2 linked regions of the Homo sapiens genome follow. The protein of the gene in region 2 purifies or fractionates together with the protein of the main gene of each other region. This does not show direct contact. Each region holds a gene or a part of one and is shown on either strand. Other genes may lie near its edges.

Region 1 (3,652 bases), on a different chromosome or scaffold from region 2:
TCATAGCTCACTTCATCCTCCAATTCCTATCCTCAAGTGATCCTCCCACCTCAGCCTCCTAAGTAGCTGAGACTACAGGTGTGCACCACCATGCCCAGCTAATTTAAAAAATTATTTTAGAGATGAGGGTCTAAAATGTTGACCAGGGCCGGACATGGTAGCTCATGCTTGTAATCCCAGTACTTTGGGAAGCTGAGGTAGGTGGATCACCTGAGGTCAGAGCTTAAGACCAGCCTGGCCAACATGGTGAAACCCTATGTCTATTAAAAATACAAAAAATAGGCTGGGCGTGGTGGCTCACGCCTGTAATCCCAGCACTTTGGGAGGCCGAGGCGGGTGGATCATGAGGTCAGGAGATTGAGACCATCCTGGCTAACAAGGTGAAACCCCGTCTCTACTAAAAATACAAAAAATTAGCCGGGCGCGGTGGCGGGCACCTGTAGTCCCAGCTACTCGGGAGGCTGAGGCAGGAGAATGGCGTGAACCCGGGAAGCAGAGCTTGCAGTGAGCCGAGATTGCGCCACTGCAGTCCGCAGTCCGGCCTGGGCGACAGAGCGAGACTCCGTCTCAAAAAAAAAAAAAAAAAAAATACAAAAAATAGCTGGGTGTGGTGGCATGCGTGTGTAATCCCAGCTACTCAGGAGGCTGAGGCAGGAGGATCATTTGAATCTGGGAGGCGGAGGTTACAGTGAGCCAAGACAGTGCCATTGCACTCCAGCATGGGTGACAGAGCAAGATTCTGTCTCAAAAAAAAAAAAGATATTGACCAGGCTAGTCTTGAACTCTTAACCTCAAGTGATCCTCCCACCTCGGCCTCCAGAGTAGCTGGGATTACAGATGTGAGTCACCATGCCCAGCATGAGCCACATAAGGTTTCTGAGCACTTACTATGGACCAAGAACTGTCTTTGGGCTTGCCCAAAGACATTCCAGGCTGACATTCCAGGCGGATGAGGACAGATGATAAACATGAAATCCAATATATATTCAACCTGCCAGCAGGGCACCAGATGAAATCCACCTGGGTGAGGATGTCATTATTTGAAGTAGAGTAGGGCGACTGGCCCCATGTTCTAATGGTCAGCCCTCTGGACTCTGAAGTAGAGTAGGGCAATCAGGGAAGCCCTCTCTGAGGAGGTGGCATTTGAGCAAAAAACTGAATGATGAGGAGGAGCCAATCATGTGGATATCCAGGGCATGTGTTGCAGGCAGAGGATACAGGATGTGCAAAGGCCCCGAGGCTGAAGCTTCCCTGGTGTGTCTGAGGAGCCCAGTATGGCTGAAGGATGGTGAACAAGGAGGAAAATGGGGAGAGGCGGGGCAGGGAGTTCACCAGGAGGATCGTGGGGGGTCTTGTAGACCACAGCAAGGATTCGATCTTTTCACCTGAGTGAGGGAACCCTGGCAGGGCTGATGTCCTTTTCTGATCTCTGAATGAGGAGGCTGGACATGGGTTATGGGTCAAGAAGCAGGAGGGAGGAGCCTTTGGTGGCCTTCTGTGTTACCATCAGTCAGAACTTTCCTGGCCGGGTGCAATGACCCACGCCTATAAGCCCAGGACTTTGGGAGGCTGAGGCAGGACGATTCCTTGAGCCAAGGAGTTCAAGATCAGCCTGGGCAACATAGTGAGACCCTGTCTCTACAAAAAAAAAAAAAAATTATTTTATTTTTTTTTTAGATAGGGGTCTTGCTTTGTTGACCAGGCTAGAGTGCAGTGGCGCAATCACAGCTCACTGCAGCCTCCACTTCCTGGGCTCAATCAATCTTCCCTTCTCAGTCTCCCTAGCAGCTGGGACTACAGCCGTGCACCACCACGCCTGGCTAATATGTCTATTTTTTGTAAAGACAGGGACTCACTCTGTCGCCCAGGCTGGAGTGCAGTGGTGTGACCCCAGCTCACTGCAATCTCTACCTCCGAGGTTCAAGCAATTCTCCTGCCTCAGCCTCTCGAGTCTCACTGCAACCTCTACCTCCGAGGTTCAAGCAATTCTCCTGCCTCAGCCTCCCGAGTAGCTGGGATTACAGGCGTGCACCACCATGCCCAGCTACTTTTTGAGTTTTAGTAGAGATGGGGTTTCACAATGCTGGCCAGGCTGCTCTCAAACTCCTGACCTCAGGTGTTCTGCCTGCCTCGGCCTCACAAAGTGCTGGAATTACAGGCGTGAGCCACCATGCCCAGCTCCCCCCAATTTTTTTTTTTTTTTTGAGACAGTCTCGGTCTGTCGCCCAGGCTGGAGTACAGTGGCACGATCTCGGCTCACTGCAACCTCTGCCTCCCGGGTTCAAGCGATTCTCCTGCCTCAGAGCCTCCCGAGTAGCTGGGACTACAGGCATGTGCCACCATGCCCAGCTAATTTTTTGTATTTTTTTTTTTAGTAAGAAGGGGTTTCACAGTGTTAGCCAGGATGATCTCAATCTCCTGATCTTGTGATCCGCCCACCTCAGCCTCCCAAAGTGCTGAGATTACAGGCGTGAGCTACCCCGTCCGGCTAATGTTTTTTTTTTTTTTTTTTTAATTAGGAGGGACTGCTGGCATGTGTCAGTAGGCTGAGGCAGGTGGATCACTTAAGCCGGGGAGGTAGAGGATATAGTGAGCCATGATCGCACCACTGCATTCCAGCCTGGGTGACAGAGGGAGACCCTGTCTGTAAAAACTTTTTTTTTTTTTTAATTTTTGAGACAGAGTCTCACTCTGTCGCCCAGGCTGAAGTGCAGTGGCCCAATCTCGGCTCACTGCAACCTTTGCCTCCCAGGCTCAAGCGATTCTCGTGCCTCAGCCTCCCGAGTAGCTGGGACTACAGGCGCCAACCACCACACCCTGCTAATTTTTGTATTTTTTAGTAGAGATGGGGTTTCACCATGTTGGCCAGGGTGGTCTTCAACTCCTGACCTCAAGTGATCCGCCCACATCGGCCTCCCAAAGTGCTGGGATTACAGCCATGAGCCACCGCGCCTGGCCCAAAAAAACTTTTAAAAAGAACTTTTTCACTGCAAAAAATAATCTTGTTGCCAGCCGAGGCCAACATGCAGCTATGACAGGGCAGTTCTCTGTCCTTCCCGGCCTCAGGCTCCTCTATCAAAGGCCCCCTTCTCTCACCTTGGCCTTGTGGCCTTGGAGTAGGGAGCTGACAACACCCCTTCTGCCCCAGGTGAATCAATGAACAAGGCTGACATTGTGAGAATACCAAGCGTCTGTCTTCTTCCCTCTTCTGGCTTAGCTCCTCACCTCCCTTGGGGTCAGGGCATCTCCTCTTTCTCCAGGAAGGGGAAGCGAAGTCTTGTGCTGAGAAGGTGACTCTGGAACTGCCACTCCCATGCCTGTGTGACTAGCTTCTGGGTGGATCTCAGGGTCTACCGTTGGGCTGGGGGTGGATGTCATCTGGCCACTGGCACCCAGACTGCAAGTAATAAAAACCTGACTCACACTGGCTCTACCAGCAAGAGGGGATTTGTTGGTTCACTGAGCTGAAGTCAGTTTACATGGCTGACTTCAGATATGGCTGGATCCAGGTGCTGAAAAATGACAGAAAGCATTTGCCTTCTCAGCTCCTCTTCTGTCTTATTCTCAGGTAGTTTCTCCCCCTCATGGAGGCAAGATTGTGCCCTGAAGCTTCAGATATATATTCTTTTTTTTTTTTTTTTTTTTTTTTTGA
Region 2 (3,652 bases):
ATTCCCTTTTAGTTCTTCCTCCATGGGTCTGACTTGAACTCTCTCCACACAAACCTTCCAAGAAGCATCCTCCCCAAGGAGTATGGGGGCACGGCTGGGGAGCTGGACACTGCCACCTGGAACGCGGTACTGCTGGCTTCAGAAGACGATTTTGTGAAAGAGTTCTGCCAACCTGTTCCTGCCTGTGACAGCATCCTGGGCCAGACGCTGCTGCCCGAGGGCCTGACCTCAGATGCACAGTGTGACGACTCCTTGCGAGCTGTGAAGTCACAGCTGTACTCCTGCTACTAGCCCGTCCCCCAGGGTCACCATCTTTAATTCTTTTCCTTCTTTTCTTTGGAGAGGCACAAGGAGAATTTAAGGGTCCATGGATTCAGTCTTGCTCCTTGTAATTAAACTGCAGGATGGAGGAACAGCCTGAGATATGAGCATGAGCCCATTTTGGGGTAAGCCTTTGGTTACTTTAATTACTCCATGGAAGACATGGAAAATGTCCCCACTGATTCTTAAACATTTGGAATCCCAGTCTGCAACTATTAATCTGGAGGCTATATCTATTTTGTTTTGCTTTTTGGTTGGGGGGTGGTGATCTGGTTCTTACACATCTTGGAAGCAAGAACAATCAGGACCAAAGTCACTTTGATCCCACTTTTCCAGGAGAAAAACCACCTGTTTGGCCAGTGAGAACTACTTGTATGAAATAATTTGGCCAAACCTTCAGTGTGACCAAATGTGAGACTGGGAGTTTGTGTTTTTCACAGGAACCCTAAGTATAGACCTCTGCTGCTCATCAGGAAACTTACTGGAGATGAAGGCCCCAGCTGTTGTCACCGGGTTTGGAAAGCACCTTAACTGAATCATGTAAGCATCAGGACATAAGCAGCACTTTGTGGTCAAATGTGGAAGCCGGAGACTTCAAAGCACCTCTGGGACCCACTGGTTGAAGTTTGCAATAGAAACTTAAGTTTTCCCAAATCCATAAAGCCTTAGCCCTGGTTCTCAATAGAATCAGGGACCTAGCAGGAAATGATTTTACTCAACCTAAAATGCTGGATCCCAGGCCCGTGTAGCTATAAGAATTCTGGCCTGGATCCCAGGTGTACAACTATGGACAAGATATGGGCCTCTACTTTCTCCTCTATAAAATGAGGCTGGATGAAATGTCAGCTAGGGCCATTTTGGCTGCTGAGGCTCTGGGATTTGGTTTAGTTACTGAATGTTAGATTTTCTGCCTAGAAAGATAACTATCTAGATACAAGTGGTTGGATCCTGTTTTTGTTTGTGGTACATGTGTCTTTCCAAGAGAGATGTGTCACCAATTAGCCCTGCCTTTAAAGAAACTATTATGTGTATTCCTGGGACTCACTGACACCAATTTTCTTTTTATAGTGATGGTTCAATTTTGAAAAGATGGCTTTTGTGAGGCCAGGTTAAGGTGACCAGGATCTTGTATGATGAATTCCTTCCATCCCTGAGACTCTGGTACTATATTGTAAACCTGGCTACAGTAGTTAATTACTTGAGATTCTTTAATTTTGGTCTCTGAGCTGGGCGTGGTGGTTCATGCCTGTAATCCCAGCACTTTGGGAGGCCAAGGTGTGCGGATCACAAGGTCAGGAGTTCGAGACCCGCCTGGCCAAGATGGTGAAACCCCATCTCTACTAAAAATACAAAAATTAGCTGGGCGTGGTGGCGGGCTCCTGTAGTCCCAGCTACTCGGGAGGCTGAGGCAGAAGAATCACGTGAACCCAGGAGGCAGAAGTGGCAGTGAGCCAAGATCGCACCACTGCACTCCAGCCTGGGCGACAGAGCAAGACTCTGCCTCAAAAAAAAAAAAAAAAAAAAAAAATTTTTTTTTTTTTGGTCTCTGGAAATGAACACAAGGGCAGGTTATTCCTGGGTCACTTCTGGGCCCCCCTGCCCTCCCAGCCCCACTTGAGTTTCTCTCTCTGGTGTGGGTGAACCAGTCAGCCTGAATGTTCTGCATTTCAGCACTTTAGAACCTCCCTGTGAAGATTTTAGCCTTAGCCCAAACATCAAATTAGACGGTTCACATGATGGTTTTTGACCTATTTCCTTTCTAATGTATTCCACATGATCATGGTGTTAAATAGTGAAAAGTACTGTGTTGTGTGTGCACCTTCTCCGTGCATTTATTAGACTAACCAGTCAAGCAGACAGCTCAGTTAGGGAGAAAACAATACTCTGAAATTTGAAGGCCAATCTGTTGTTACTAAGCTGTTTATCTCTATTGCCTTTTTAAATGTCTGGATAAGTTGTTGGTGGAAATTAAGTTACTTAACCTCATTAATACCAATTCTAGAGAAAGTTCTTTTCACCATGGATAGTAACCCTGGATCCTCTACGGTACTGGCTGAGCTGGAAGTGCCAAAAAGCACTCCTGGCTGCTTCTGGTTCCATCTGATGATGATGTGACACACACTGCTGAAAAGGCCCAAGCAGGGCAAGTGGGATGGCTGAAGGAGGGAAGGAGGGGGTTCAGAACCCACTGGCCTGGATGGGAGAACTGGGTGGAGGCTTCCCCAAGAGGGAAGACAGATAAACAAAACAAAACAAAAACTGGGTAAAGAGGAATGAATCACTCAGCCCTGATGTTTCAATTCTACACTGCATTCCTGGCCAGTCGCATTTGTTTTAATGCAGGCATGGCCACAGCTCTCCTAGAGAATTATCTCAAAGACCAGAAGGGACCTGGAGAGGCCTATTTCTTAGGTTTTTCCAGTTGGACAAGGAAGGAGTGGTTTCACTCAGCTTCTAGAAGGAGTTGGAGCCTAAGTTTATCTGCCTCCGGGAGCTGCTTGCTTTGTTTTGGCTCCGAAGAGGTATCAGATAGTTTTGACACCTCAGGAAACTTGAACCAAGCTGTGAAACCAAGACCTCCCTGCGTGAAAATCAAGGTGGTCTCCTTGTGGCTTCACCAGGATGTTTGTGTCAGGCTGTCTCAGCAGGGTGGGGAATGACCAGCCAGGGAGCACAGTGAGCCTTACTCAGCACTGGGGAGCGCACTGGTGAGGCAAACCCATGAACCTCAAGAACTGGGAGTATGTTCCTTCAGGGAGAAGTTCTGGCCCATTGCACAAACACTTGGAAATTAACTTTTCCCTAAATTCAAGATAGTGTGGTGTCGGAAGGAAATGGGACAGTAAATTAGGAGACGCGGGCTCCACCTTTACCTTACTACGTGGCCTTTGATGAGCTGGCTTAACATCCCTGAGTGATTCCATGATAGAGATCTATACTCCAAACTTTATTCCTGGTATCTAGTTGGCTTCACTGCCACAGACACTGTACTCTCTCTTTTTAGAAGTTTTTTTCCTTTTTTTTCCCCCTCAATTGGCTTATTTAGTAAATTTAGGTCTGAATGAATTGGTACCTAAAAGCTTCCAAATCTATACATTTCAGAATATGGGAATTTTCTTCCTCTTCTTCCCCCATATCCCAACATGGAATTCTGGAAAACTGTGCCTCTTCCCCTGTTCTGCCTTCATGGGGGAGAGACTGGATGAAATCTACAAAAACAGCCAAAAGTGCCACCCTGGCTTCATGTCTTGAATTTCTAACTTGCTCTTGGCAAAGGTCGCTTTATTTTTTAATTTTTTTCCTTGCATTTTCTTTTTTATTCTATTGCTGC

What was found. Proteins that work in one complex are often made in the same cells at the same time.
Region 1: the proteins of TTPAL (region 2) and C19orf38 purify together in Homo sapiens (affinity purification with mass spectrometry; one large-scale study listed by BioGRID and IntAct). This does not show direct contact.

The regions. Positions count from the first base shown.
Region 1 is NC_000019.10:10,851,406-10,855,057, forward strand, and holds part of C19orf38 (protein HIDE1 precursor), read left to right. Parts: intron 1-3,652.
Region 2 is NC_000020.11:44,489,251-44,492,902, forward strand, and holds part of TTPAL (alpha-tocopherol transfer protein-like), read left to right. Parts: intron 1-12; coding exon 13-291; 3' UTR 292-3,652. UniProt on the Homo sapiens protein: May act as a protein that binds a hydrophobic ligand.